4 linked regions of the Homo sapiens genome follow. The protein of the gene in region 3 interacts with the protein of the main gene of each other region in a pairwise test. Each region holds a gene or a part of one and is shown on either strand. Other genes may lie near its edges. The genes, in order: STX19, KCNN3, NAPB and TFEC.

Evidence for each region.
Region 1: the proteins of NAPB (region 3) and STX19 interact in binary tests that used the Homo sapiens proteins (3 or more experiments, as listed by UniProt).
Region 2: the proteins of NAPB (region 3) and KCNN3 interact in binary tests that used the Homo sapiens proteins (3 or more experiments, as listed by UniProt).
Region 4: the proteins of NAPB (region 3) and TFEC interact in binary tests that used the Homo sapiens proteins (3 or more experiments, as listed by UniProt).

The regions. Positions count from the first base shown.
Region 1 is NC_000003.12:94,017,836-94,025,887, forward strand, and holds part of STX19 (syntaxin-19), read right to left. Parts: intron 664-8,052; exon of another isoform or gene 604-663; intron 1-603. UniProt on the Homo sapiens protein: Plays a role in endosomal trafficking of the epidermal growth factor receptor (EGFR).
Region 2 is NC_000001.11:154,867,282-154,875,345, forward strand, and holds the start of KCNN3 (small conductance calcium-activated potassium channel protein 3), read right to left. Parts: upstream 3,001-8,064; 5' UTR 2,684-3,000; coding exon 1,751-2,683; intron 790-1,750; exon of another isoform or gene 668-789; intron 1-667. UniProt on the Homo sapiens protein: Small conductance calcium-activated potassium channel that mediates the voltage-independent transmembrane transfer of potassium across the cell membrane through a constitutive interaction with calmodulin which binds the intracellular calcium allowing its opening.
Region 3 is NC_000020.11:23,410,702-23,418,753, forward strand, and holds part of NAPB (beta-soluble NSF attachment protein), read right to left. Parts: intron 1-8,052. UniProt on the Homo sapiens protein: Required for vesicular transport between the endoplasmic reticulum and the Golgi apparatus.
Region 4 is NC_000007.14:116,026,972-116,035,494, reverse strand, and holds the start of TFEC (transcription factor EC), read left to right. Parts: upstream 1-4,731; 5' UTR 4,732-4,862; intron 4,863-8,523. UniProt on the Homo sapiens protein: Transcriptional regulator that acts as a repressor or an activator. Acts as a transcriptional repressor on minimal promoter containing element F (that includes an E-box sequence). Binds to element F in an E-box sequence-specific manner.

The sequences.
Region 1 (8,052 bases), on a different chromosome or scaffold from region 3:
TTTAGGAACAGAGTTATTGCATAAGAACAAAGTGAATGTAGATAGAAAGGAATGAGAGGAGTAACATGGGAAGAATGAAGTAGAAAGGTAGGCATGGACCACATCATAAAGGACTTGTGGGCCAAAGGAAGGAGTTTAGATTTTATTCTAGGTGCAGTAGAAGACAGTTAAAAGATAAATAGGATATTGACATGATTTGTATATATTTTTTCATTTTGATATGTAATTTAAAAAAATTTTAAACTGATACAGGGGTGTCCCTATGTTGTCCAGGCCGGTCTTGAACTCCTGGGCTCAAGCCATCTGTTCGCCTTGTCCTCCCAGAGTGCTAAGATTACAGGCATAAGCCACCATGCCTGGCCCTGATTTATATTTTTAAAAGATGTTGTTGCTTTCTATATAGAGAATAGTTTCCTGGGGAGGGGGTGGGAGTAGTTCACAGAAGAGACTTTAATGATAGAGATGGAGTAAATGGGAACCATCAGGATATATTTTTGAAACTAGAAGCAATAGGACTTGATGATTTTAACCCATCAGCACTTAACACAATCATTTCTTGAGACACTTTGAAGAAAAGTATTTCTCCTGTTTTTTTTCTCTTACCTTTTTGGCTCTTCCTTTATCACTATTTTCTTTTTCCTGGCTACTCCTTATCTCCCCCACCTGTAAATATTGGAAGATTTTAGACTGAGTCTCATTTTTATCCATCATCATTTTTTAGTCTCATGGCATTAAATGCTGTTTGTAAGCTGATGACCCAAATTTGTATCTCCAGTTTAGGTTGCTCTTAAAAAACTGCCTACCTGACAGCTGCATTTGAATGCCTCTATCCAAAATGAGCTCATAATCTTCCTGTGAACCCGTAAACTGCCCCATCTCTCTTCTGGCAACTCTATTTTTCCAGTTGCTCAGACCAGAGACTCAGAAGTCTTTTTTTGTTTGTTTTTTGAGACCGAGTCTCACTCTGTCCCCTAGGCCGGAGTGCAGTGGTGTGGTCTCGGCTCACTGCAACCTCCGCCGTCCGGGTTCAAGCAATTCTCCTGCCTCAGCCTCCCGAGTGGCTGGGACTACAGGCATGTGCCACCACGCCCAGCTAATTTTTGTATTTTTATTAACGACAGGGTTTCACCATGTTGGCCAGGCTGGTCGCAAACTCCTGATCTCAGGCGATCCGCCCTCTTCGGCCTCCCAAAGTGCTGGGATTACAGCTGTGAGCCACCGCGCCTGGCTGGAAGTCATTCTTGACTTTTTTTTTCTACATTTCATATGCAAGCACAGCAAATCTTGTCAACATCTCTTTCAAAATGTATTTGGATCTAGCCACCTCTTACCATCTCCCTGGTTCAAGTCCCTGTTATTTTTGTTAATTTTTTATTTTTGAGACAGAGTCTCCCTCTGTTGCCTAGGCTGGAGTGCAGTGGCACAATCTTGGCTCACTGCACCCTCCATCTCCCAGGTTCAATCGATTCTTCTGCCTCAGCCTCCCGAGTAGCTGGGACTACAGGCACATGCCACCATGCCTGGCTAATTTTTGTATTTTCAGTAGAGATAGGGTTTCACCATATTGGTCAGGTTGGTCTTGAACTCTTGACCTCATGATCCGCCCATCTTGGCTTCCCAAAGTGCTGGGATTACAGGCATGAGCCACCGCAACTGGTCAAGTCCCTGTTATTTTTCATCTTGATTGTTAACGATAGTCTCCTAAGTGTTCTCCTTGTTTCCTTTTTGCACCAACTACCCCCCATCCTGCCCCCACCACAAAACCTCTGGTCTTTTCTTAACACAGAATTCAGAGTTAAAATGTAGGTCAGACCATGTCATTCCTGTGCCTAAAATCCTCCTTTGGCATTATCTCTTAGAGGAAAAACTAGAGCCTACAAAGCTCCACAATGACTTCACCCCTTCTGTTACCCCTCCGACCTCACCTCCTACAACTCTCCCTTTCTCTGCTTCAGTCTCACTGTCCTTGCTGTTCTCACACAAATCTGGCACCATCTGGCTTTAGGGCCTTGGCACTTGCCTTCTCTTCTATTTGAAGTGTTCTTTCCCATGTAGTATGTGACGTTTTTCCCCAACCCAGTCCTTACTGAAATGTCACTCCTGAGTTAGGATGTTCTTTGTCACCCTATTTTGAACTATACCTTCTTTCAACTCTCTGACCCTTCCCAGCTTTATTTTTCTTAGCATTTTTCACTATTTAACATACCATGTATTTTACTTATTTATATTAACTTAATTGTCTACTTTCTCCTCCCAGTATTAACTCCATGAGATCAAGGGTTTTTATTCATTCTGGTACCTCATAGAGTTAATACTTAGAGGAGAAAGTAGAGGGTCTTTATTCTTTCCCAGCACCTTGATGAGTCTTATATTTACTTGAGTTCTTATGTTGAGATCTTGATATCTTAGATTTACTTGAGCTCTTAATATGTGCCAGGCACTAAGTGTGTTTTATGTTCTTATAAGAACAAGTATTGTCATGATCTCTATTCTATAGATAATGAAATTACGATCTCAGCTTTAGTAATTGAACCATGTTGTCAGCTAGTGGTAGAGTTGAGATTCAGATTCTGGCAGTATAGTTTGAAGGACTCAACTCTTTATACGACAGTATAGCATACTAGAGCATAGTAACTTCACTATGACATAGCATAGCTTTACTATGCTATGAAGGTTTTTCAGTGGTGTTAGATCATTTAGGGTGAGTTCTGAAAAGAGGCAATTAGGTCAGTTAAGTGGTTGGGAAAAGAGCCAGATCACAAGGGATAAGACCTTGAAATCTGTTTGTGTCAGGAAAAGGTGTTTTATAGATATTAAAAGTTTATTCGGAAACATTTGCTGTATTACTTTATTGCCACATGACTATATTGCTGAGCATTTTAAGTACCGGTGGGAAACATTTAAGAGCAAGTTTTTGTTGCTGAAATGCACTTAAAGCATTCTACTATTTATTTCACCTATTTTAAATACTTAATTCAAATAGCCGGTAATCTTTTGTTTTTGCCACTGATTTGCTATAGTAAAGGTAAAAAAGTTCAGTCAGTACAATTTATGTAAATAGGGGACTTCTAAGCTGGAAGGAGATTCCATACGCCTCTTCCTCTGCATATTTTTATTGTCTATATTCTACTTTACTGGCAAGGAACAGTTTCTCTACCTTCAGAGTAGAGCTAACCAAAGCTAGTGTTTCTATAAGATCCAAGGAAAAAAATGAGCTATGAATGATACTAAACCTGGAACAATTATGAAAGGAAGATTAGTCAGGAGGAATATTAGACGATACTATAGAAAGAATTGCCAGTTTTAGGTGTTAAAAAGTTGTTTTTGTCTTTCGTGTTTAATATTATTATATATATATATATATAATTTTTTTTTTGAGACAGGGTCTCGCTCTGTTACCCAGGCTGGAGTGCAGTGTCATGATCTCAGCTCACTGCAATCTCCACCTCCTGGGTTCGAAGCGATTCTCCTGCGTCAGCCTCCCGAGTTCCTGAGACTACAGGTGCCCATCACCATGCCCAGATAATTTTTGTATTTCTGGTAGAGACAAGGTTTCACCATGTTGGCCAGGCTCATCTTGAACTCCTGACCTCAAGTGATCTGCCCGCCTCAGCCTCCCAAAGTGCTGGGATTACAGGTACAAACCACCATGCCTGGCCAAATATTGTATAAAATATTTGATGCTTATCCAGGTATAGATACTTAAAGACATGTAAAACTATTGGGAAGTAATGTGGAAACTTTTTACCATGTGGCAACTTTGTGAAAGCAGAATTATCACCCATGTTTTATTATATACATCTGATAAGAACTAGTCTTCTTTTCAGTATAGAGAAAATTTGATGTTAAAGTAGGTTGGCTTAGTAATTTATCTTGTATAGCTTCCTAGTGTTCATTTTGTGGTTTAGTGGTATTTATGACTCCCTAATCTATAAGCTCTTTCTAGTATTACTATATTGATGCTGAAAATAAATTATTCCCCAAAGTGTTGAAGATACCATGTCGCATTTAATATAGCCATAAGCTTTTTAAATAAGCTTTTTAAAAATGTTATTTTTTCCCTCAAATTAATAATGCATGTACACAGGTTAACAAGTCAAGTCATGTCAAGGCTTCTAAAGATATATATCTGACCCTTACCTGCCGTACCACATCCCCTTTCCAATTCTCCATTCCTTAAAGACAGTCATAAAGGCAGTCATTTTCAGCTCCTTAGCTATATGTTGCATCTAAACTCCTGTTTCTAGGTAATTTGCATGTGTAGGTATTTTTGCTTCTTCAGTTTTATTTTATTTTATTTTTTTTGAGACAGAGTTTCGCTGTTGTCACCCAGGCTGGAGTGCAATGGTGTGATCTCAGTTCACTGCAACCTCCTCCTCCCTGGTTCAAGTGATTTCTCCTTGCCTCAGCCTCCTGAGTAGCTGGAATTACAGGCGCCTGCCACCACGCACAGCTAATTTTTGTATTTTTAATAGAGATGGGGTTTTACCATGTTGGCCAGGCTGGTCTTGAACTCCTAACCTCAAGTGATCCACCCGCCTCAGCCTCCCAAAGTGCTGGGATTACAGGTGTGAGCCACCGCACCCGGCTGCTTTTTTGGTTTTAGTTATTTTATTGAATTTCTTCTATGGAAGATGTGGATTTAATCTTCTCTCACACCCCCATTCTTCCCTCACCTTCCCCCTTTTAATACAGTTATATCACAAATTTTGGTTAATCAATATTTTGTGTTTACATTATTGTGACTACCCAAATATTATTTATATGTGAGTCACCTAAGGTACTGTAGCTGTATTTCCTTTCTCAAATAATTTTTTAAATTATTTCTAAGTTTTTTCAATGGATAGAGATAGAAAATGAATATATTTAAGAAAACTTCTTATTGACATATTTATATATACAGAAAGTCCCCCAGAACATAAATGTATATTATGGTGATTTTTCACAAAGTAAATACATCCATGTAACTACCACATAGATCAAGAAACATATAACATTTAATTTTAAGAAAATATTAATTACCAAAGTTTTTCACCTGCTTAATTTTGTACATACATCACTAATTCATTCTAAAACTGAAGTGAATTGAACATATCCTCTTGACATATTTAAATATAGAATATATATATTTTTATTTCATTTTATTCATCTTTTGAGGCTCCTTTCCTGGAAACTCTAATGTAACCTGATTGTGTTAGAATTTTCTTCCTCTTTTATATTCTCTATTTTTGATTTCCAATTCCTCACCTTTCTTGGTTTATCTCCTTGATTTGGGAGTGTACCATAGCTCCTTTTCAAAACATAAATGCAATGATAATTTTCATTACTGAAAATATTTTTATTCTGTCCTATACTTGAATACTATATTTTCTGTGGATATAAGTTTCAGTTGGAAATTATATTCCCTCAAAATTTTGAAAGTTTTGTTACTACATCTTCTAGTTTTGTTACCTCTGAATATTCTGCCCTGTGTTTTCTGATATTTTGTAGATCTGTTTTTATATTTCCTTTCATGAAATTCTTGACCTTTTTTTCATATTCCTGGTGTTCTGAAATTTCACAACAATGTGATCTGGGGTAGGTCTTGATGCATTTATTTGGTAAACATATAGTTGGTCTTTTCAACCTAGAAACTCATGTATTTACGGTCTTGCTTTTTTTTTAAATAATTTCTTTAAGAACTTTATTTTCTCCATTTTCTTTGTATTATTTTCATGGCCTTTCAGACATTAAGAAAATTAAAGAAACAGTCCAGTCCAAGAAAAGCAACGTCCAAATAAGGGGAATTTTAAAGTGACTTGCCTAAGGCCACACAACTAAAAGGTGGCAGATCCTACGTTTAGACATATCTACTTGATTGCAAATCTGTTCTTTTTCCCCTATTGTCTATTGAGTAGAAATTGGTTATCCTAGTGAAATATACACAAATAATGTTTATCTATATCAAATACTGTATTATGTTACTAATATACATACTATATCTATTTAAAAGAAAAAATTTAGCAGGAGATAATATAGCATATAGGATCTAAAATAATGTTGTTGTTTGAAGCTTTATTAGGATCTTTAATATAATCAGACCAAATTGATCACTTTACACTATAAAAGAAGAAAAATAATTTGGATCTCACAGACTGATGTTTACAGAAAGTCTAAGAAATATTGCATTTTATATTTGGTACTATATGGAGATTGATATTCTTATATTTTCTTCTGCTTCAACTCATAGTCATCTAACCAAATTTCTGTTTCCTTCTCTTGTACTAGCTTGTCACTATGAATTGTTTTTTAAAAATTAATTAATTAATCAATTAATAGAGAAAGGATCTCGCTCTTTTGTCCAGGCTGGTCTTGAACTCCTAGCCTCAAGGGATCCTTCCACCTTGACTATGAATTCTTAAAAATACAGCATATATAGCTGAAGTGCTAGTTGCCACATTATTATTTTTTAAACTGGGTTGCACCCGTGTAAATATAGGGAAAAAGAAAGAGTAACAATGTTAGAAGCTCAGAGGCGAGAGAAAGAGAAAGTGGCATCAAACAAAACAGATTTTGATTTTCTATCCATAAAAATTAAGTCCTATATTTATACAATGGTTCAGTAGCTTTTAACAATCTTTAATTTTCACATTCCTCAAGAACTACAACATCTTGAACTTTCTCTTTGGTTGCATGGTTTGGAACAAATCCTGAAACAACTCCCTCTAATGTTTTTATGACTGGAAAGATCTTTGTCCTTTTTTGGGCGTGTTGTTTTGTTTTATTTTTGAGATAGGATCTCACTCTATCACCCAGGCTAGAGTATAGTGGCTCAATTGCGGCTCACTGCAGCCTCTACCTCCCAGGCTCAAGTGATCCTTCTCCCTCAGCCTCCCGAGTAGCTGGGACTACAGTTGCATGCCACTGTGCTTGGCTGATTTTTTAAAATTTTTTGTAAAGATGAGGTCTTGCTGTGTTGCTCAGGCTGATCTCTAACTCCTGGGCTCAAGCAATCTTCCCACCTCCGCCTCCCAAAGTGCTGGGATTATAGGCATGAGCTAGTGCACCCAGCCTCTTTTTTAAAAAAATTAGAAATAAAGTAATCAAAAGCCTTTTTCTAAAGCATCATAGTTTAAAAATTTTTAAGAAATAGACTATTTCAAATTGCTATTGGAGCACAGTGTACACAGGCCTCTGGGAAGGTGAATTTTCCTGTGAAGTGCCTTTGAGAAGGTGCATTTTACTGCCACTGATTTTGGAAAGCAGGATATTTGAGTCTGACCTCTATAAAGGTTGTTTTTTTCCTGGATTTTTATCCATGTAATATCATTCCCTGAACATGCACCACACTTTTATATTTGAATAAAAGGTACTTTAAGGAGCCCTTTAAAATATATTAATATGTCCTTTTTATTAATCTTAATGAATTTACAAGCAAAAAACAAAATATCCTTTTTTTAATATCTGTATACATTATTGATATTAAAGGCAAAACATGGAAATAGAATCAGGTTTCCTTTCAGTGTTATACATCATGGCAATGCGTATTATGTAAACGATGTTTAAAGTGAGCTATAAAGGTTATACTGTGTTTGTCTTGGTTTATGGATCCTATGCCTGTATTTCTTTTGAACATTTAGAGAATATTTATGTGAAAGATCCTTTACATTATTAGGTTATTTCTAGTTTCTTAGGAGTAAATTCCTATGTTTGCTGTGGCCACGGACTGGTGACCACTCTGTTAAATGTGGGCAAGTGTATTTAGTGAAATTCGTCAGTAGCCTAGCTTCATTGGGGAGTTATACAAGAATGCTCTGAGTGTCCTGATCAATTATGGATACATTGAGGCTATTTTTTTGATTGTCACTACCAACGCCCCATGGAGTTTGCCCCTTGTAGCCCAGGTAGTATTATGTAGGCCTAATTTTTCTCTAGTGATTTTTATAGCCTAAGTGGATATCTCACTTCCTGCTATAATCCTGGGCAAGTCAACAGAGTTATTCCTGTCTTTGTATACAGATTATGTTGTATTATTCCTAGTTAACTGTTTCATCTAGGAAACTCAGTTTTAGT
Region 2 (8,064 bases), on a different chromosome or scaffold from region 3:
GAGGCTCATTACAGGGAATGACTAAGTGAGCTGCGCTTCCAAGGGAAACCCCACTCGCTTCTGCTCGCTGAGACGCTCATCCTTGAGCTATTTTGACTAAGGCGGCTTCCAGGTGCTGCCCTCCGCTGGGGCAGCCCACTGAGAGAGCAGCCGGGTTGCTGGAGGACCCTCTGCCTGGAAGTCTTGGTCCTGGCTATTCAGGTCGTCTGACAGGTCTGCCCCACCCGTTTCCAGGGCGGGAAAGTCTGCCCATCACCGATTAAAGTGAGATGCTGGGAATGGGGGAAATCCGATCAGCACCTCCTAGGTTTTTGCGGCTGGATTTCAATAAGGAATGTGACAGTCTCGCAGCAGCTGTGCCCTGCCTGAAACAAGCTCTATTTGAAACCTCCAACAGCTGAACCCCTCCCAGCTACCCGATGGCCAGCCCGCCCAGCCACCCCCCCACCAAGCCACCCCCTGCCCCAAATGACAAATAAATAGAAAAACCCAAGCAACAAGCAGGCGCATGCATACGTACAAACATTACGCACATACACACACACACACCAACAAATTGGGGGTGGGGGTATCGTGGAGCCACTTGTCCACCGATTCCCAGGTCTCCAAGCCTTCCAGCCCACAGCAGGAGAGCTCCCCGGCAAGCAGAGCATCGGCAGAAACCCACCTTCCTCCATCTCCACTCCCTCTGGGAGGGAAACCCCCTCCTCCGTCTTGGGGCTGGACTGAGAGGCTGGAGCAGTGGGGCCAGCTCCCCGCTAAAGCCAGTGCCTGCTGTTCTCCATCCGGGCGCGCACTCACACACACACTCATCTTTATTTATCCCAAGGAGGAGTTGAGGTGGGAGGGGAGAACTGGGGCTGAGCTGGGGCGCGGGCTTGTGGGGACCGCCTGGGAAGCCCTGTCATCCCGTCCCAAGGAGAGGTGCTCCCCCAGCTGATTCCAAGGCGGCGCCCAGCTGCTCTGCCCAGGTAACACCTGTAGCCATTTTTATCAGGAGATGTTTACGAAGCAGCAGCAGGTTTATTCTGAGTCCTCTCTCCTGAGGGAAAGGACCACTGATTTCCTCCACCTATATTTTTACCCCATGCCCTCAGGAGACCCAGGTCATGGATGGTTTTCTATTTTGCCCGAGACTCTCTGAGAAGAGGAGGGAAACAGAAACTTGGGAAGAGATGGAGAAGACAGGGAGAGAAGGGACTTGGGCAATGGTACGGAATCCCCACCCCCCACCCAGACATTTATTTCTTTTTTATCCTCAGGAAAATGGAGTGGAGCAGGGAGGGGAGGAAAGAAGGGGAAGTCGCAGGAACTGGCAAACACATGAAGGCGGAGTGTAATTAATTGGTGCGTTAAGCTGCTGGGTTATGCTTTAGTACGAGTGAGCCAGGAGGAAAAGCGATTTCTCAGAAGGGATTATTGAATCCTCCCTAACAGAGAGTCTGCAAATTAGACACAGTGTGTGGGGATGTCCCCTACCCCCCAGAGGAAGCTAGGAATGAATTCTCCCGGGATCAAGAAGGAAAACCACGGGAAGTTAGAGTGTTGAATATAACTGAGCAAGCGCCTCTCACCACCACCACCACCTCTCTCTCCCAGTCTCCCTCCCAATCTCTCAATCTCTCTCTCTCTCTCTCTCTCTCTCTCTCTCTCTCAATCTCTCTCTCTCACAATCCCCCTCTCTCAATCCCTCTCTTGCTACCTACATATTCCTTTTGTTCAAGGTATAAAGAGAAACCACAGCCCCTACCTTTGAGTACAAACCCCAAGAGAGCTCGGTCTCTATCACCATAACAACAATTCCAAACATCCCAAAAATCAGAGCATAGTCACTCAGTCGCTTTCTCTTTTCAAACAGGGCCCTCCTGTGTCCCAGCTTATAGCCAATGTTTTGGTTTTTCCGCTTGTTGGCTTTGGGGAAGGTGGTGCTGCTGGCGGTGGTGCCGGCATGCTGGTGGTTGTGGGTGGCATTAGGGTGATGGAGCAGGGTCTGGTGGGCATGGTTGTCCTCCCGGGAGGAGATGACGATCTCCGGGGGGTTGCTAGGGCTGAAAAGCTGGAGGGGTTGGCCCTCAGTCTCGGCCTCGATGAGGTTCCTCCGGGAGGCGCTGAGGCGGCTGAGGGGCTTCATGACCCCACCGCTATACTTGCAGGAGCTCATGGCGATCTCCGTGAAGGGGTTGCTGTCCCGCCGGTGCACCAGGGGGCTGGCCTGTCGGTGCCGGCTGCCTCCGCCAGGCCCACTTGTAGCTGTGGAACTTGGAGAGTGGCCAAGCAAGTGGTCATTGAGATTGAGCTGGCTGCCTTGCCTGGAGGAAGGGTGGAGGATGGCGGTGGAGTTGGACGAAGGGGGGGCCCTGAAAGCGGTGGGAGAGGAGTGCAGCAGGCCAGGGTGGACGGGCTGGCTCTGGAGTTGGGCGAGCTGAGACAGGGGATGCGGTGGCTGCTGCTGCTGCTGCTGCTGCTGCTGCTGCTGCTGCTGCTGAAGCTGCGGAGGCTGAGGCTGCAGCGAGGGTCCCAGGGGCTGCTGGGGGGCTGCTGGTGGCGCTGGCGGTGGTGGCTGCTGCTGCTGTTGCTGCTGCTGCTGCTGCTGCTGCTCATCCCCAGAGGATGGACAGGGGCACTTGGGGTCTTCATCCAAGTCCCCCACCCCCGAGTCATGGAAGTGCCCAGAAGTGTCCATCTTGGGGCCTGGCTGTATTCCCTGCAGCACAAGCCCCCACCCCAAAGCCACCCTCGCTCCAAAGATGTCCTCAAAGAAAGCCAGGCATCCAATCTCCCCCACCAGTATCTTGGCTCCAGTCCTCTCTTTGGCTTGCTTCGGTTCTCTGGGGCTGCCTGGAGTCCAGACGCTGCCACTCAAGAATGCATTGTATTGGGCAGGGAGGGAGAGCAGGAGGGGAGCTTGGAGAAAGAAGAGGGGGTGAAAGAACTCTCTCAGGAGGTGGTCCTCTAGGAGCGTGTGAGGCCAGGCTCAGCTTCACTCCTCGCTGGCTCAATAGCTTCGCTCGCCTCCTCCTGCCACTGTTACATTGTAAGCCAAGCCCACTTATTAGCAGCTGGTCTCATTGGCTTGGCTTAACTCTCCAACCTCCTCCTAGCTCCGCCCCCCGCATAGGCTCCTCCCCAGAGGAGGGGCCTGGCGTCCTGGGCTCCGGCCCCAGTGGCGGCGCAGCGAGGACTGGGAACTGTAGTTTTTGCTCCCCCACCCCGGAGCTGAGCCGCTGTCCTCTTTCCTCTGACAGGTATGGCCACAACCCTTAAGCCCACGGCGATAAGGGATGTTCGCTCACGCTGGGCGATGGGGAGGAGGGACAGAGGGCCTCCGAAGGAGGGGAGGTGTGCACCCTGATGAGGGGGCAGACGGAGGGGAAGGCAAACATTTATTAACCACCAGGGTTTACGATAGGTTGTTTCACATATATTATCCGGATACAGTCTCCAAACACCCAAGGAGGTGGGCAGTATGGTCTCATTTACAAAGCCTGATGCTTAGAGGTGTTGAGTAACAACGTCAAGGTCACAGAAGCAGGGGGGATCCACACCTTCTAACACCCGGTGGATAAACTCACCTACCATTGACTGAGTGCCTACGCCTCGTGTTCAGGGTCCTCTCTGTTATTTCCAACCCTCACATCAACCCCACAAAAATGATGTCATCACTCTCCTTTTACAGATGAAAATTGGAAGAAGAAGAAGAAGAAGGAGAAGGAGAAGAAGGAGAGAAAGGAAAGTGGAAAAAACACTCAAACGCTCAAACATAGATATGTAACTTGTCAGATGTCATCCCGCTTGTAATTAAAGATGCTGGGATTTGAACTTAGTCAGTCTGACCCCACAGATCAGATACTTTCTCCCAGGATGCATTTCCACTATGATATTCAGTACAAAGTGGTTGTTCAATAAATATTGTTCAAATGTTAGTTGGGGAAAACAAAAGAGAAGCTGCTGAGGAAGAACTGGCCTCTCCAAAGCAGGGTGTGTGAAGTGGACCATGGCTCCAGCCCCTTCCCTAACAGCTGGGTGTGTAGTCACAGGGGGATCTGGCAGGAAGACTGAAGATTCCCCCATGGTCATTCCCTGCCTGATTTGCCCCATGGGGCTCTGAGAGTCAGAACTAGGAACAGCTGCTGGCTTCCCAGGTTCAGAACCATCATCATCAAGTATTTATTAAGCCCCCACTGTGTGCAGAGGGGGTTCCAAAGGATGGGACCAGAGCTGAATTCATTTTCATTTCTAACCACAGCAGCCTTAGGAATCAGAAAGGAAGTCACCATGAGGGAATTCCCCAGAACACCTGGGGTTTTAAAAGGCAGGCCTCTTCCTCTCTGGCTCTTGATTCCCCATCACCCTTTGGCCTCTGTCCAGCTCCCTCCCTCGATGGGAAGAGGAAAGGGTAGGAGATCCATGCACACATACACAGACACACATCCAGAAAACATGTAAGCAGGTGGACATATGTGCACATGTGTACATGGTTGTGTGCACACACTAGCCCATGCATGCACACATGCACACATATACACATAGGAAGCTCCTAAAACAGCATTCCTGACTGGTAAGCAGCAAGTGTCCAGATCAGGGAGGGACAGAGCCCCCCCAAAATGAGCCCAGAGTCCCCTCTGTATATCAGTTCTCACCTCTCCAATCCCCCATTAACCCTGATGATTGAGAGCTAAATATTACTTGTAATACAAGCCACGACCCCAGATACGTGACAATTACTCTTGCACAATAATCTTGATTCTGGCCAGGCATGGTGGCTCATGCCTATAATCCCAGCACTTTGGGAGCCCAAGGCAGGAGGGTTGATTGAAGTCAGGAGTTCGAGACCAGCCTGGACAACATAGCAAGACCCAGACTCTACAAAATTTTTTAAATTAGCTGGACATGGTGGCGAGTGCCTGTAGTCCAGCTACCCAGGAGGCTGAGGGAGGAGGACTGCTTGAGCCCAAGAGTTTGAGGCTGCAGTGAGCTGTGATAGCGCCACTGCACTTCAACCTGGGCGACAGAGTGTTACCCTGTCTCTAAATATATATATATATAAAATAATAATCTTGATATCAATGACATAATCATTTCCCCTACCCCTGCCAACACACACACACACACACACACACACACACACACACACACACACACACACACTAGAAGTCACAGTACCAGGCCTCAGATGCAAGCCTGGGGTCTCATGTGTTTTCCCATGACCAAGCCCTCTAGAACCCACCCCCAACCCCTTCAGCATCCTCTGCCTTCCCTGCCCTTCCCTTCTGTATTCTTGATTTCCCTCCCTCTCCTCCATCCGCAGACAGAGCCACCTGCTTGGTTCAAGGCTCCAGATCGCATACTTAGGTTTAATGATCCTCTAATAAATTATCATGAATATGTTGTTAGTAGCAAAAATGTGCTGTTCGTGTTGGTTTTTTAGTGTTGGATACAGTTTTCTGGGCTGTGAAAAATCAATTTTGGAGAACAGGCTCCAGGCCTGGGTATTCCTATGCTCACTCTACCCCCATGAGCTGCCTTCTGCCTCAGCTAACCTTTCTGGCCAGCCTCTTGCCTCCAGTTCTTCTGGCTGTGCCAATGGGATCCAAATGGGGCCTATCAGAGCACGTCCTGCCATCATGGATAAGGATGAAAGATAGCTTGGGTAGAGCCCTAACTATGCCAGCACCAAAGATCAGTGGTTATCTGGAAATGGGCTGGAACTTGACAGCTGATGCCACGGAGCCAGCTCATGCCCCTTGTTACAGCTATCCTGTCATGAACAGGAGGAGGAGGACAATGTCATGTTTAGAGCTTGGGCTCAAGTGTCAGACTGCCCAGGCTGGAACCGTTCTCTGCTGCAGGGATGGCTGTGTGACCACAGGCAAGATGACCTTCTGATCATCCATACACATCTCTTCCTAACTCCACAGTGATGTCACATTAGCAGCTTGAAATCAGCCATGATCAGAGTATTTACACCACAGAAATCGGCTAACACTGTAAATTAGAGCTTATGTTTTCCTGGAAGCCGCTTGCTAAATCTTTCCTGGCTGTTCAACATTTATCAGCATATTACTGCCTCCTATATCATTACATACAGGCTGTGCGCTCCACCCTCTGCCTTCCTTCTCACCAGCACAAGCTTTGCCACTCGCCCACTTTGTGACCAGTTGCTTATGTTCTCAGGCCTTCAATTTCCTTAGTCCAATGAGAGCACCGGCCAAGTACTTTGTAACTGTCAAGCACCGACAGGTTAGTGAATCAGCTGGGAGCTCTCAACCACAGGGCCTGATCATGTCAGGTTTTCCACGTTGCCCTCCAGATGCACCGCACTCAGGCGTCTTCCCGCTGTTGCTGCCTGTCCAAAGCCCCACTGTTGAAAAGCCCCCAATGCTTCCCTTGGCCCCCAGCCACAACCATGTCTTCACAGCAGCCTGTGAGTTGAGGCCATCACCCATTTTATAGATGAAAAAACTGAGGCATTAAAAAGATTTTAAAACTTGCCCAGAGTTACTAATTAGTAACTAGCCATAAAGCTGGAATCAAACCCAGGCCTGTCCAACCTTTTGACAAACCCTCGCCATATGTCCTGAAACCCAAATTTAAAGGATTCATTCTTACTGGTGTTTATTAAACATTACCATGTGACTCACACACCCAACCCTCAGGAACTTAAAGTCTCACTGTAGAGACAAGTTATACTTACATGGGGTGACAAAAAACAGCAATGCAGATCCCAAAGTGTGGGCGAGACAGTAGAGTTCATTGAAGGCAGAGGGTTGTCAAGGGTGGCTTCCTGGAGGTGGTGGGACTTAAGCCACACCTTAAGGAATGGGGAGCAACTCCTTATGCTGCCCTAAGATGACAGGCTGACAAATTAGGCCTCTTTAGTCTGCAAACGGGGGTGTGGAGGAGCTTCTTACCTCAGAGAGACAGGAAGAGCAGACAAGGAAAGTAGGGGTGGCCTTTGGCCATACTGGCTCCACATCAAGTGTACTGGCACTCGGTTTCTGCCCTCCTTTCCAGGCTCATTCCTCACCACCTTCCTCCTTAAGCCCCAGCATCACCGACCTATTGTAGCTCTCCCGTAAGTCATGCTATTTCACATCTCCATGCCCTCTGCCTGGCATGCCCTTCCCCCAGATTTCCATCTAACACATTTCTCTTTGCCTTTCAAGACATGGCTCAAAGGTCTTCTTTCTGAGAAGCTTCCCCTGAACTCCCCAAACCCAAATCAGGAGCTCCTTCTGTATTTTCAGTGCCCTGTGCTAACAGGGCCTCTACGGAGCAACACAGCTGTTATCTCCATATGTGTCCTTTGCCCATAGACCATGACCTCCTTGAGGGCAGGGATGATGTCTTCTTCACAGCTGTACTGCAGCTCTTCCGAAGAGCCGCTTACAATAGATGCTTAGTAAAGATTAATCGAACTGACTAAACTTGAAACCTGGATGAGGTCATTTGAAGGCAAGTAAGGGAAAGTCACAGTACTTTTCACAACAAATCATAAACACAATTTCCTCATCCGTAAAATAGTGAGATAAAAAAGATGATTTCTAAGATCACTCAGCTTTAAAATTCCATAATCTATTGTCTGTAGACCTTGTTATCCCCAAAAGGTAGAACTAACTGAAAATAGGTTTAAGAAAAGTAGTGGTTCATGGTTTATATGGCTGTCTTTCCCACAGGCTGTGACCTGCATAAAAGGGCTCTAAATTTTTTCAGTATCCCCAACACTGATCACGGTGCCTGGCTATGAATTACTCATTAAAGATTTATTGGTCGGACCTGGTGGCTCACGCCTGTAATCCCAGCACTTTGGGAGGCCGATCACAAGGTCAAGAGTTCAAGACCAGCCTGGCCAACATGGTGAAACCCCGTCTCTACTAAAAAAAAACATACAAAAATTAGCTGGGCGTGGTGGCGAGCGCCTGTAATCCCAGCTACTCAGGAGGCTGAGGCAGGAGAATTGCTTGAACCCAGGAGGCGGAGGTTGCAATGAGCCAAGACCATACCACTGCACTCCAGCCTAGGCAACAGAGCAAGACTCCATCACAAAAAAAAAAAAAGATTTAT
Region 3 (8,052 bases):
AACAAATATTAAAATAAAAATGAGCCATACCAAAAAAGCCCCAAAACAAAAAAGAAACAAGAATTAAAATACGTTCCCTAAAACAATCACAAGGCACAGGAAAACAATTCCATATGACTGAAATATTATTAAACAGATATGAAAGTACATCATAAGCTAGAAATTTAAAAACTCATCATGGAAATACACAAAAAAATAAGATGATGAACTCTTGTTTCAAATTCTAGAAGGATAGAAATAAAAAGACAAAATGATCTCAGAAATAAAATCTCTGTTATAGCATACCTAAGGGGAAAGCAGATTCTACTGACAATAAGGAAAACTATGAAAACAGCCAAGAGAACAAAAATGAAGAGAAAAGGATCTAAGTAAAAGTAATACAGGATGGGCAAAGAGCCAATATCCATGTAATGAGAGTCCCTAAAGAGGGGAAGAAAAAACCCATTTTCACAATCTGAGAAAATTTTCTGGAAACAAAAGGCATGAATCGAAATACTGAACAGGCCTACATGTACTTGGAAAACTGACCCAGAATAGTCTACTGTGAAACATATCCTAGTAAGATGACTAGATTTTATAAATGAAGAACATTTCTGGGCTTCCACATAAAAACTCAAAGTTACTTATAAAACTAAGAAAATCAGGCTAAGACTTCAACAGCAATATACGGAGCAAAACAACAGTGGAACAATGCTTTACCAGAAACTCAAGGGGGAAAAAAGTGTGAGCCAAGGATTATACAACCAGGCCATCCAGCATGCAACCCCCAGTGTAAGCCAGGACCCAAGGGATAACTAAGAGATGACTAGGAAACATAGCTGAAATGACTGGTGGTGTCACTGCATATGTTGTATTGTAGATCTAAGACAAAATGTAAGGACAAGGGTAGAAAAATAATAGGGAAACACTTCTATGTCTGACAAAGTACAAACAGCTTAAAAAAAAAGGGATATTAGAGAACAAGAGATGTAGAACGTGCTCACTGAGAAGCACATAGGTAACAGGAGTTTTCTGGAGTGAACAAAATAATAGGCGCCTAAGTAAGGAAAAGGAGCTAAGGATATTTAAAAACATTTATAGCATAAAGGTAACCAGTAGAACAAAATTACAAACCTTCCTAAATAAAAAAAGAGACATGAAGACAAATAGCAATGAAAATATAATATACAGTAAATATAGTAGTATGACAGTTAAGAACCAATCATATACTCGTCATTTTCAGATCTGCTCAAAAAACAAAACCCAACTTTGTGCTCAGTACAAGAAACACAACTAAAATACCTATTCCGAAAGGCTTAAAATAAAGAGATGGTCAAAAGTATACCAAACAAATCAAGCAGCTCTCATTAGAACTGTCATAACAGCAAATAACCCTGACATCTCCCAAAGGCTTCTCTCAGTCACTTGACTTGTTTACTGCAGACTGGCTGTGACTGCTGCCTCTTTCTCCAAGTGTCATCATTCTCTACTCTGGAATGTAGCACTTATCCGGTATATATACTCTTCTTAATTTCTTACAGAAGGGTAAAAGCCATGGCAGAAGTGCCTTCCACTCATACTTCATCAGTCAAAGTCAGTCACATGGCCACAACTGGCAGCAGAGGGCACAAGGTAACAGACAGCATGTATGATCCTCTTACATAATACAGTCCTAAGGAATGCAAACACAAGCAGTAAGAAAACAGAGATTGCTACCCTGCAATGAAACAAAGTAGAATTTGGGCTCAAAGGCTTTAAATGAAATAAAGAAGTTCACTTCATAATGCTAAAAATATAATTCATAATAATATTAGTTGTGAAAATCTATGTACCAAAAACACAGTAGCCCCCTTTATAAAGCAGAAATTGCAAACGTTAAAAAAGATAGAAATACACTTATAAGAAAGCAGATATTAATATGCCCCCCAAAACAGATCAAGTGAACAGAAAATACAGACATGAAAGACAGAGACAATATAATCAATAACTAGACAAGAGGGATCTCTATCAAAATTTGATAAGAAAATATCCACCTTCTAAAGTATACATGGGAGATTACAATCCCAGCACTTTGGGAGGCCAAGGCAATTGGATCGTTTGAGGTCAGGAGTTTGAGACCAGCCTGGCCAACACGGTGAAACCGTGTCTCTACTAAATATACAAAAATTAGCCAGGTGTGGTGGCGTGTGCCTGTATTCCTAGCTACTGGGGAGGCTGAGGCAGGAGAATCGCTTGAACCTGGGAGGTGGAGGTTGCAGTGAGCCGCACCACTGTACTCCAGCCTGGGCAACAGCGTGAGACTCTGTCTCCAAAAAAATAAAGTGTACATGGGTGCTGGGTGCAGGTGGCTCATGCCTATGATCCCAGCACTCTTTGGGAGGCCAAAGCAGGAGGATTGCTTAGGCCAGGAGTTCGAGACCATCCTGGGAAACACAGCAAGATTCCGTGTCGAAAAAAAAATTTTAAGTAAAGTGTACCTGGACCATTCATGAACACCAACAATATATTAAGTGGCAACGAAAATCTCAGTAAGTTCTCTGATCATAATGAAAAAAAAAAAGTTTAAGTAATAATATACAAAGAAAGGCCATTCTTTCTACCTGGAATAAAACCCTTACAATAAAAGCCTCTTGCAACAAAGGGGAAACAAACTAAGATAAAAACATTATGTAACAGGATCTATAAAATACAACTGAAGCAGTTTTAAGAAAAAAATGTATAGCCATGAATATTTTAATCCATACAAATAAAGCAATGAAAACAGTGAATAAACACCTCCCTAGAAAAATGAACCAGAGGGAAAAACAAAAGAAGCCAAAGAAAGCAATAAAGATAAAAGTATAAGTCAGTAAGACAGAAAACACAAAACCAGTAGAACAAATCAATCAAAATATTGGTTGTTTAGAGAAAAAGAATCAAGGAAAAAAGGGGAAAAACACAAACACAAAAATAAAGTGACAGAAGAAAATTACTAAAACAGAACATTTTTAAAAGTCAGAAAAGACTACTATGCACAATGCAAATACATTTTTTAAAACTTAGATAAAATGAATTATTTCCTAGGAAAACACAATTTACCAAAATTGACCTCAGTAGAGATAGAAAATTTAAACATTACAAACTCCAGAGACAAAAACAAGAAAGTTATCAAAGAAATACCCATCAAAAGCCCCAATGGTTTCACTGTGGTATATTCTTAAATCTTCAAAGACCAGAGTCCAAAAAAAAAAAAAGAAAAACATCCACATTATTTTTAGGAGGCACCTGTAACAGCAATACTTCAAGCTGATAAAGTAAAGCTATATACAAATGAATTGTAGATAAAACAATCCTAAATCATGTATGTAAAAACAGAATCTAGGCCAGGCACAGTGGCTCATGCCTGTAATCCCAGCCCTGTGGGAGACCAACCAGGCAGATCATTTGAGCCCAGGAGTTTGAAACCAGCCTAGCCAATATGGTGAAACCCCATATCTAATAAAAATACAAAAATTAGCTGGGCATGGTGGCCTGTGCCTGTAATCCCAGCTGCTGAGGAGGCTGAGGTGGGAGGATCACTTAAGCCTGGGAGGCGGAGGTTGCAGTGAGTAATGAGCACATCACTGCACTCCAGCCTGGTCAACAAAGTGAGACCCTGTCGCAAAAAAATAAACAAATAAATAAAAATAAAAATGGAATCTACATTTAAAAATATATTATAATCCTGAGAGGTTTACTCCAGGAGTGCGAGGACAGTACAATACGAGGCCTCATATTTACTAATTAACATATAATAACTCTTAAGGAGAAAAATGTTTATCTCCGCAGATATTCAAAAAGGCCTTCAAAATACAACACTAATCCCTAATGAATACACGGACTAAAACTGGAATTGACAGACAAGTCCTCACCATGAAAAAATATACCTTAATTCAAGGAAGTATTGACTTATTAGATTTTGTTATTACTTATAAGTTCCACTTAAATACAGAAATAGTTAACATTCTGAAACTCTACTTCCAAGTTTCCTTACTGTGAACTTTATTAGTCACTGAAAATTCTTTGAAGGTACAAAAGCTTTACTGATTTTATAACCAATCAGATAAACACAATGTGAAAATCTAAGAAGAGTATATGAAGTCTGTAACTAGGGTGATTCTGTGTCCTCATTGCATAGATATGCTTGACTTGTACCCATTTTATTAGTATCTCAAAAATATCACAATTTGGACAATATATTCTCTTTGACTCCATAACTCACAAAAATAGAAAAATATATTAAAAAAATTTTAAGTATAATATTTTGATTAGCTTAATTATTCAGCATTAATTCATACATGAATTAAGATTTAAATATGCTGTTTATATATAAAAGGTAATAGAGATTGAGACATAACTAAGTAAAATGAGGAGGTAAAGGGGAAAATGTAAGACCATGTAAGTTATAATAAATTTTTCATCATTTTTAGCAAAATCAACAGATACTGTCTGAAAATCAAGATATCAGGAAGTAGAAGTGCTCTAAAATTATTTAGAAATATGGTGGTAACCATCAGAAAAACTAATGAGAAAGTTAAAAATGGTTGCTTCTTGGGAGTGAGATTACGTAAAAAGAAGACTCAGAGAACTTTACTTTTCAACTGAAAACTCTCTGCGCTGGGCACGGTGGCTCATGCCTGTAATTCCAGCACTTTGGGAGGCCGAGGTGGACGGATCATGAGGTCAGAAGTTCAAGACCAGCCTGGCCAACATGGTGAAACCCTGTCTCTACTAAAAATACAAAAATTAGCTGGGTGTGGTGGCACCCATCTGTAATCCAAGCTACTCAGGAGACTGAGGCAGCAGAATCACTTGAACCCAGGAGGCAGAGGTTGCAGTGAGCCAAGATCATGCCACTGCACTCCAGCCTGGGCAACAGAGCAAGACTCCATTTCAAAAAAAAAGAAAACTCTCTGTACTCCTTGTACTTTTCTACCGTGTACAGCTACAATGTTCATAATAAGCAAATATTTAAATAAAATGCCTAGTACAGTGGCTAACACCTGTAATCGCAGCACTTTGGGAGGCTGAGGTCAGCAGAGCAGATCGCTTGAGTCCCGGAGTTGGAGACAAGCCTGGGCAACATAGCAAGACCCTGTCTCTACAAAAAATACAAAATTAGTCAGGCATGGTAGTGCATGCCTGTAGTCCTAGCTACTTGGGAGGCTGAGGTGGGAGGATCTCTTGAGCTCAGGAGGTCAAGGTTGAAGTGAGCAGATATCTCGCCACTGCCTTCCAGCCTAGGCAACAGAGTGAGAGCTCGTCTCAAAAAAATAAATACATAAATAAAACGGAAGAAAGCGACTTAAACTCTCCTTTACTTGGTATAGCTTTGCTCTTGAAAACTAGGTAAGAATAAAAGAAAAAACATCAGCATTTGTATTAGCATTAATACATTCATTCTCTCCACCAATATTTACCACGTGCCTAACGCATGCCTCAGGCTGGGTGAGGTGTTAGCCACAGCAACAAAACAGGCAGACTTCCAAGGAGCCACATATGATTACTGGCCCTCCCTCTCTCCAGAGTAACTGCACCTCACAGAGCTCACAAGAATGAAAGAATATGTGGAGAAAACTGCAAAAATGCAACAAGAAAAAGGCCAGTCTGGTAACAGTTTATCATTTGATACCAAGCTGTAACAACCTAAAATCAGAAAACCAAACAATTATAATAAAGTTATATAGCTCTGTGCAACTGAATAAGCATTCTGACCTCATTCAATCCTTAACAATCGTGAAAAACAGATTCTGTCTCTCTGCCCATCTGAAAACTAAAAAAAACAAGTTCTGAGTATGATTTACTTGACTATAGTCACCAAAATAGTAAATGAGAGAACTTGAGCCTCTACCTGGTCTCCCCATGAATAATAATATAATTATATTTCTTACGTATATTATATAATTTATAAAAATAATTGTTCAATTTATAATCGATTTCTTTTGAGAAAGATACACAAATATACGTATATATTTCTTATACTGTATCACCTGTCTCTGTCAGTAAACCTGAGCCTAATAATTTTTTTAAAAGTTCAATCTGCATTTGAACAAGAATTGTAACTGAGGAAAACCTAAATGCTTCACCTATGTTATCACATGGCCCCACCATATTTTGGCCAAACTTAAAAGCAATCTTTGTTGAAATAAACACAAGTGAAGAATACTGATAATTTACAGTCTACAATGCTTAAGAAATATTCACAATTTTCACAAACAACCAACAAATTATAGATTCATAATTATTTCAAGATAACCCAATGGGGCCTTTCATTAAATTTACATTGACATTGCCAAATTTGTAGCTCTTGTGTAAACTCAGACTAAACACTGAAAGGCAAAGGAAGACAGCATTAACCATAAAGAACATCTTTCCACTGGCATTCTTTTTTTTTTTTTTTTTTGAGACGGAGTCTCGCTCGGGGGCCCAGGCTGGAGTGCAGTGGCACAATCTCAGCTCACTACAACCTCCACCTCCAAGGTTCAAGTGATTCTCCTGCCTCAGCCTACCAAGTAGCTGGTATTACAGGCGCCCGCCACCACGCCAGGCTAATTTTTGTATTTTTAGTAGAGACGGGGTTTCATCATGTTGGCTAGGCTGGTCTCAAACTCCTGACCTCAAGTGATCCACCCGCCTCGGCCTCCCAGAGTGCTGGGATTACAGGCGTGAGCCACTGCACCTGGCCTCCACTGTCAGTCTTAAGCACTTTCTTCTATGTGCATTGTGCAGGTTATTCCCAACCGGGTCTCATAGCAACAAGATGGAGGGGATAGTATTATAAGAGGCTTTTCCAATTCAAAACTATCTTAATGTCAGACTCAGGCCGATTTAAAATCATACCAGTAGTTCATTAACATTATAAACTGGAATTTGAAATTAACTACAAAATTCCATAGCTCATCCCTGGCAACAAACTAAAGGACAAGACAACTCCTTTGGAAGTAGTTTTACTAAACGTACTATACTACAAACTTGAGAAAAAGTTTTAATTCCACAACTACAAAAGCACATTACTGCTTAACGGGCAATTAAGCAGAAACACAAACCACCACAACAGTGGTTTCCTGCAATGTTTGCATCCCTTGTCAGCTCTTTTCCTGGGGAGGAAGGTGGGGATGGGAAAGGAATATTGATACCTTACCTATCAAGCAGATAAGGCAGAGGATTTGTGCCTTACACAGAGAAGAAATATTTGACTGACATGTTCTCATAAATACATATGCATATTTTCATCTAATTTTACTGAAAGCAAGAAACAAAAGCTATAGAATACTACTAAGAATACAGTATTGCCACAAAACCACTGTGAGTGGTAAACACTAGAGAACTCATGACAGGCTTTAATCTGCAGATAGAGCATTCAGAATGTCTGTGATGTGAAATATCTGCAATATGCCAAGCAGCTTTTAATGACTGCCACAACCTGAAAACAGATGGCTTATCCTCTTTAAAGCACCAGCTAGTCAGCTCTTAAATATATGAGCTCTGATGATATTCAAGTCAGTATGTGTGTTTTATTAATTTTGTATTACATTAATTCTGGAGTCTGACATAGAGATGGATTACTCTGCGTTTTAAATAAAGGATTACATGCAGACCTTTAGGAATGAAAATGGTGACATTCTATAGCTAAGAAGGCAGGGGCAGGGTGGAATAACATGTATTCCAGTCTAGAAAGGTGATGATACATGCCATCTATAAGGTAGGATTCTAAACATCTAAAATTGATACAGAATCTTAATTGTCCTACTGACACAGGAACACTACGTCTGTTTTCTGGCTTCAGTAATTATACAATATTACTAAACTCCTAAAATTCTAAGTACTCTTCTTCCTGCAAGCTTTCCTGGAGCAAGTATTACTGGAAATAACAGTCTTCAAAGTATAAATCACACTTGCATGGTACATTAATGGTTAAAGCTCTTTCAGATATTTTATTTCATTAAAAGATCAATGAGGCTGGGCGTGCTGGCTCACGTCTGTAATCCCAGCACTTTGGGAGGCCAAGGCAGGTGGATCACGAGGTCAGGCATTCGAGACCAGCCTGGCCAACAC
Region 4 (8,523 bases), on a different chromosome or scaffold from region 3:
TGACTTTGCAACATTTGAAGAGAATAAAAATGTTAACATTAATGCTTATAAAAGAAATATGTGTAAAGTGTCCTCAGTTCATACACATACACACAAGAGCCCTTAATTCTGTATCTTTCAAGGAAAGTACAGACAGGAGGTCACGTATGATCTGGACTTTGAAGAGAGGAGCGTCCTGCAGGGGGACATTGTAACCTAAAGAAAGTGAGAATGTATTATGGTAAAGCTTGAGATTCAGACTCAGATTTAGTTGAGAAGACATTTATGAGTGATCCTAGAGAATTTGGAGTCAAAATTTAGGCAGTAGGGAATTTTTTTATGATTATAAATAAAGGGAATAAAATTTAGAAAAATCACACATTTAATCATTTAGTGATTAGTGCTTAGGATATGTCCATCAGCAAGGAGATGGGGATCCTGGTCTTCGTGAAGCTGTCTTTCCAATGAATGATTGAAATTAAACAGAAAACCTGGTAGGTCATGGGGTCTATGGAAAAAAGGACAAGCAGAGTAGGGTAAGGAGAATAAACAGTTTCAGTGGGGGAAGATGGGGGAGACAAGAGAATGGTGGAATTTCAGACAAGTCAGGAAAAACTTCATTCAGAAGTTGATATTCCACAAAGAGTTAAAGGAGGTGTGTAGGCCTAGGACCTTAGACACCATTTTAAGGAATTGGAATGACTTAAGTTCTTCCTCTGAGTATGAGGAATGCTTTGACAAAGTTTTGAATAGAAAAGCTACATGATCAGCTTTGAGTTTTAAGAGAACCACTCTGGTTGCTGTGTGTGTGTGTGTGTGTGTGTGTGTATGCATGCCTGTGCGTGTTAGTGTGTGTGTAACAGATAGAAGGAGGGAGAGCAGGTGTAAGGTCTTTGCGGCAATCCAGGTGAGAGATGAGGTTAGCTTTGACTCAGATAATAGCAATGGAAGTTGGATGAGGCAGATAAATTCCAGGTGGGTTTGAAGGTGAGCTCACAGGAGTTACTGATGGACACGTTGAAGGGTATAGAGAAAGAGAGGAGTGAGCTGGAGGGATGAAGATGGTGTTAATCTAGTTGGGGAAGGCTGCAAGTGGTGCATGGTTGGAAGAGAAGATTTTGGTTGTCTGTAACACAGGAAAATGCAAACATAGAGTAGGTTGTTGGATATATGAGTATGGAATTCAAGAGAGATATCAGGCCTGGAAGTATGACCATGAGAGTCATTAGCATATAGATGATATAAAGTCATGAAAGTACATGATATAGCCAAGGTAATGAATATAGCTAGGGTAGGGGAAAGAACAGGCTGAGACTTAGGACATTTCACTATAGAGAAGAGAGGAAACAGCAAAGGAGACTGAGAAGAAATACTCAGTGATATAGGTGAAAATTTGAGTCTGTAGTGTCCTGAAAACCCATAAAAAGGGCATTAAAGGCAAAGAGAATGATCACGCATTCACTGCTGATAGGGAAAGTAAGTTGGAAGTGAGAACTGACCATTTGATTGGCAAGACAGAGGTCATTGCTAGTCCTGACAAGGTCAGTTATGGTGCTCTGGTGGAGCACAAAGCCTTACTGGAAGGAGCTTAAGAAAGAATGGGAAAAGAGGAATTGAAGACAGTGAGTATTGATAGCTCTTTTGAGTTTTTCAAAAAGGGCACAAAGAAATGGAGTAACATCTGGTGGGAGAAGTAGGGTTCAGAGAAGATTATTTGTTTTCCTTTAGGTGGGAGAAAGAACACTTGCTTGTATTCTAAAAGGAATGATCTGGTTGAGTCAATGTTTGGCACTGTAGATTACAGGTGAGAGGAGGGCATTGCTAGGTGGTGGTCTTGGGTAGTGGGAGGGATGGGATCTGGTATAAATGGAGAGAGCTATTCTCTGCATAAGATGACATATAATTCATCTATGATAACAAATGGGAGTATTTGGGTACTGGTACAGGGAGTGGATAGACATGGAGGATGGAGAATGGCAGGAATAAAGAAATTGACAGAGGCAACTGAAAAAAGGAAGAAAATGGGTAAAACTCACATGGCATTTATTACATGCCTGGCATTATTTAAACAATTTACTTCTATTATTTATTTAATCCTCATACTAGCCCTGCTCTAGGTACTATTAGTTTCTCTGTTTTACAGTTGAGGAGACTGAGGCAAAGAGAAGTGAAGTATTTTAACCAAGGTGCCATAGCTAGAAAGAGGTAGAGCTGGGAGTTGAGACCAAATCAGTCTGACTCTTAACCAAATTCCTGCAGCCAAGCACTTTGACACATTTCTTCTTTGTGAGAAGAATTTCAGGCATAGAATGGCCAGAACTTGACCATTTAAATGCGAGGAGTGAGGATACATCCTCAGAAACAAAGATTTTTTTTTTTTTTGATGAATCATGAGAAGATGTCTTGCCCTTTTCTTTGTCACGTGATTAATTAACTGAAATGCATCTTGCAGGGAGTCTGTAAACATCAATCAGGTAAAGACAGAAGGTAAGATTTAAATTATATCAGTTATTTATAAGATCTCCCTCATTCTTGTCATAAGGGAGCAGATAATTTGTGGTAAAATTATTTTGTGGCAAGTAGTATACTATACTAAAAGTTTGGTTTATAAACTATTTTTGAAATGAAAACTATATTTTATTAGAAACGACATGCATGATTTTTAAAAATTTTTAACTATTATTTTAAGTTCAGTGATACATGTGCAGGTTTGTTACATAGGTAAACTTGTGTCATGGGGGTTTGCTGTACAGATTATTTTGTCACCCAGATATTAAGCCTAGTGCCCATTAATTATTTTTCCTGATCCTCTCACTCCTCCAGCCTTCCACCCTCTGATAGGCCCCAGTGTGTGTTGTTCCCCTCTATGTGTCCTTGTGTTCTCATCATTTAGCTCCCACTTATAAGAGAGAAGATGCAATATTTGGTTTTCTGTTCCTGCATTAATTTCCTAAGGATAATGGCCTCCAGCTCCATCCATGTTCCTGCAAAGGACATGATCTCATTCTTTTTTATGACTGTATAGTATTCTGTGATGTATATGTACCACATTTTCTTTATCCAGTCTACCATTGATGGGCATTTAGGTTGATTCCATGTCTTTCCTCCGTGAATAGTGCTGCAGTGAACATACGTGTGCATGTGTCTTTATAATAGATTGATTTATATTCCTTTGGGCATATACCTAGTAATGGGATTGCCAGGTTGAATGGTATTTCTGGTTTTAGATAGAGGAATTGCCACACTTTATATAAAATATAGAAGCAATAGATAAAAATGTAAAAAAAGTAACTACCCGATTATGCCACCATTAAGAAATAACTGATATTAACAAATAGATGCTTATTCTTTCAGGTGTGAATATGTATCTATGTGCATGTTTCCAACTTTTGAAGCCCACATAGTAATACAGCTTTAAAATTTACCTTCTGAAGCTCGCAAATGTATTTCATACAAATACATTAAATATGTTAAACATGTTGTATCATACAAATGTATTAAACTCTAATTCAATCTAAAGTATTTTCTAATGAGTTAAAATCCCAAATATTTTCTTTTCTCACAATGTTTCTAATATCAATGTTGTTTATTTCTAATACTAACCTAAATAAATTGATTTTACACTTAATTATTTACTATTTCCATTCACCTTAGGAGATTTAGATGTATGATAAAACAACCAGAAAAGGTAAGGTGACTCAAAAATGTGCTATTGATAGTGACAGAACAATTTTTTTACTTAATAGCTTTGAAGTTCTTACAGAAGATATAGTGCTGAAATATTTTCATATAATCTCCACTTCTTGACAAACACAAATGTCAATTTAATTGCACAATTTTTAGATCACAAAGGCAAGAGAAATCTGAATGTAACCTTCACATTAAACTTCAGTAGCTTGCATAAATGCCTTGCTTTGCATATATTTTTTAAAATATAGGTAAGACAAGAAAGTCATGTAACTGTTACAAGAATGAATTCAGATTTTCACAGTGTGAATTACAGGGTGGGAACAAAGTTGTACCTTTCCATTTTAAGTTCCTGAGATACCTAACACATGAAATGAGACCTCTTTTATCACATTGGTAAAGGCATGAGTATCCTATATTCATGTCCCTTAAAAATACAAATGAAATTGGGATGTAAATAATAATTATAAGACAAAGAAATCTCATAAGCTGAACTGTGTATTTTTAATCTACATGGGAAGATAAAATATTCTTGGACAAGATAAAAATTATCCTGGGGTCACTTTAGGAGTAAAATCATATGTAAGAAAAATGTAATTATAGAAAATATGGAAAATGCAATGGCCTTAAAAACTCAAAATCTATTAATGCTCTAAAGAAATGTGCAATTCCTAAAATTGAAAAAAAAATGATGCAGGTCAATTTGTTGAAGAAATGTTCATTGTGAAACATAACATGTTGCAATAAATGTAGGATCTCAGTCCATTATGATAACAACCATGTACTGCTTGTGTATATTCTGGTAAGAATTGTTAATTATGGAGCCACAATGGGACCAACAAGAGCTTTTACTGTGGCCACAGTATTGTGGAGTAGTTTTCTAGGAGTGCTCTTTCTCAAATTAGTGGCATATTTCAGATAAAGAAAGGAAGTCGTCTTAACTTGAAACTGCTGTGTCATTTCTTCTTCCTTAACTGAAATTCCAACCAGGGTTCAGGAAATGCCCTAATGAGCCACTTCTCTTTTCTCTTTCCTCAACTAACTGGATTCCAACCAGCCCAAAGTATTCATTACTCACGGCTAGATCGTTTACTTTGGTTGTCCCTTCTGGCATGGTGCATATGTTATGGGAAGAGGGATTATAATTTGGTGCTGTTTGTAGAGATGACAACACTGATAAAATCCACTCATTGCTGGTAGGTAACTAAACCGGCAGGTTAATTTTCTGTACTTTAAACAAACTAGGAAGACAAACTAATCAATACTTGTTTTATTTTGATATGTGTGGCTTGCTTATAATTATAATTTCATCTTTTATGATAACTAGGTATCAGGATATCTGAGTAGTCAAGTTGTGATTTGCTATTATTTGGGGAAAATATGTCTGAAACTCTATTAATGTCTTATTTCAACCAAGATGTGGAAATCACTGTTTTAGTTCATGGTAACCAAAGTTATTTATTTTTCAAGTTTAATATTTTCAGATATTTACTAAATTGGAACATGATTTAACATTTTGTTGCCTCTTATATATGTTATTTTATGAGTAAATATTAATTTTTGTTTACATTTGAGCAATATCTATTTTATTGGCTTTAAAGGTAAGAAAATATGAGCTCTATTTATAGCAAAATAGTACCAGATAGTATATTAGCATATATTCTTATTCCAGGACTAAAAATTAATTCCTATTTTTATGTAGATGTGGATCTAAATAGCTTGTGTAGAAGATGTCAAGTATCCCAATGCAACAACCTTTTTTTGAGATGGAGTCTCACCCTGTCACCCAGGCTGGAGTGCAATGGCGTGATCTCTGCTCACTGCAACGTCTGCCTCCCGGGTTGAAGTGATTCTCCTGCCTCAGCCTTCCAAGTAGCTGGGATTACAGGCATGCGCCACCACACCTGGCTAATTTTTTTTTTTTGTATCTTTAGTAGAGACGCAGTTTCACCATGTTGGCCAGGCTTGTCTTGAACTCCTGACCTCATGATCTGCCTGCCTTGGCCTCCCAGCAATTACTTTTTTAAAGTAATAGTTTTCAATTGTAATAATCAAAAGAGTTGTAGTAGAAACTTTAAGATTAAGATACATATGAAGATATTTATACACATGTACATACATATATATATGCTGTATATATACATTTGCTTATATAAATTACAATAGATATAATTTCATATATATTTATATAAGTTATAACTCCATACTTTCAATATTGTCTTAGAATATTTCACTGGGAATATGCATTTTAAGGGAAGGAGAAACCTGAGGTAATTTCAAATTCATTTTGGATAGTTTATAAGAAACTTCATTTAACTATAAGAGTGTAAAATAACCTTCATGATTCTTTCGTATTCAGAAAGTGTGTCAGCACAGCAAAGTGAAATGGTACGCAGTTTATTATCAGCATTATTCGGACAATTCTGCTTCACTTCTATTTTAGATGAATCTGAGTGTAGCAGTGCACTTGCAAGTATCTTTTAAATTTATGTTAAATATTTTACTTTTGGATGGAAGCTACTTTAAGTAGGCTAAACTTTAAGATCTCCTTTTAAGAAGTTTTTTTAAACTTTTTTTTTTAGCTCTAAAACAAATGGAATACATATAATTTTCATGTCTATTTCCTTGGTTTGGGTTATTATTACTTTTTTTTTAAGTTTTCAATTTTATTCCAAAACAGTAGAATAGTTCAATGTAGTACATTTTGTTGAACTGAAACTTGGAGCTCATGTCAAAAATGAAACAAGCTGAAAAATGTTTCTTAAAAGTCAGTTTAATTTTAACGACTGCGGCATAAGGTTTGTTGTAAGTTCTAGATAGCCCAAAATAATTACAAGACATTTAAATAAGGTACAAATTTGTAGCATAGTGAAATTTTCAGAAATACTACTAACTTATATAGTGGAAGTAAAAATAGTTTTGAAAACAGTGGTTTGAATAGTCAGAAAGGAGAAATAAGGAAAGAAGAAACTGAAAGAAACAAAATATTCTTACACAATGGTTTTAGATAAACTAGTGAAATATAACTCAAATGGAATCATTATGGCTGTTGATATTTTCCATAATAGTGGAAAAGCAATCACTTAATCTTTTATAAATCGTTTTACAAATAAAGCTATCAGATGTCAATTAGACATTCCAGATTCTTCATGGAGATGAAAGCTCTTACAGTAAAAAATACTGGATTATGATATGGAGTGATAGCAGATCCAGAAAGGTGGTGTTTACAAATAGGTTGCTATTTTGAACTATTTGTCAACAAAATAAAACACATGCATAGTGCAAAGCATGGTTCCTGCACAGATTTTACTGGGGGTGTTTACTAAGAAGAGTCTGGGAGGCATAGAGCAGTAGGAATGACAATCATCCCCAAAGTCATAACCTACGAAGAGAGAGGTTAACAGTAGTCTTGTAGGAAAAGAAAAACAGCAAGAAACTAATTTACGCAAATATTCCTTATTATATAGAATTGTGAATGCCAGCTAATTAGAGAAATCTGTAGAATTGTGTTGTGGGTGTTTGGAGATTTATAAAAATTTGGTGGACAATACTTTGCCTATGAGAGCTTAGCTGATGATAGATGGTTTTGTGATTCCATTAAATTGTATTTATTGGAGCATAAAAAGTCTTGGCCATTTACACACCAATAAATAAAGAAGAACAGGAGAATATTAGAGGTAGTTTATGTTAAATGTTAGGAGAATTGGGAGAATTCGTATAATTGAAAAAGTGAAATAGTAAGATAGAGATGTAGAATCTCCTCAGGTGACCAGGTTTAAGAATGAATTGGTCAAGGCGAGAAAGCCCTTGTTCCCAGTTTTTCAGTTGCTCTCAGGAAATAGAGGGAAGTTGAGCCTAATGATCTTAAAGACCCGTTAGGTTTCTGTTTCTCTTTTCTCTTTTCAGGTTTGAAAGAATAGGTGAGAATTTGAAAATCGATCTAAAAAAAGGAATTGAAAGGAGAGTCTAGGACGTAGAGGTGGAGTTTTAATAAGGATTCTCATGCCTCCTAATGTTCATTCCTAAGAGTTACCATGGAAGAGTATTTTCAAATTGTCTCTCTTCTTGAAACATGCTTTCTCAGTTTGCCACTGAGCCAGAGACTTCTTTTATACCTCCCTTTATTCCCTTCTTTATTCTTTCTTGCACAAACATGTTTCCAATGCTCAGCTTCCTTAGATGTATTTCCACCCAAGTAAGAATGTGAGCCTGCACATTTAAAAAATTTTTTTGAGACAGGGTCTCACTCTGTCACCCAGGCTTCAGTGTAGTGGCTTGATCAGGACCCACTGCAGCCTCGACCTCCCGGGCTCAAAAGAGCCTCCCGCCTCAACCCCCCAGAGTAGCTGGTACTACAGGCATGCACCATAATATCCAGCTAATTTCTTTTTATTTTTTTGTATTTTTTTGTAGAGATGGGGGGTCTCGCCATGTTGCCCAGGCTGGTCTCAAACCCCTGGACTCAAGTGGTTGCCTCAGCCTCTCAAAATGCTGGGATTACAGGCATGAGCAACCACACCCTGCCAAGCCTAGACTTCCTATCTGTTCAATCAAATATTTGGCTATATCTTGTTTTCCACTTGCAGCACTCATTCTATGCGGCATCTTTCCTCACGCTCCCAAAATCTAGACCAGTACCTACCGTATTATTGACAATCTGTCTATAGACAGGTATTTATCCCTGCCAATGTCTGCAGAGAACTTCTCAGGGGCTAATATGTTAACACTCTGTTCCCTTTGACCCTGTGTAGACTCAAATGGATTTGAACCTACTGAACTATCTGAGGTCTGCAATAGAAAGTTTGTCAGCAACATTTTCACCCCCAGCCTTTAAATTCTGGTAAAATTCTAGGCTTC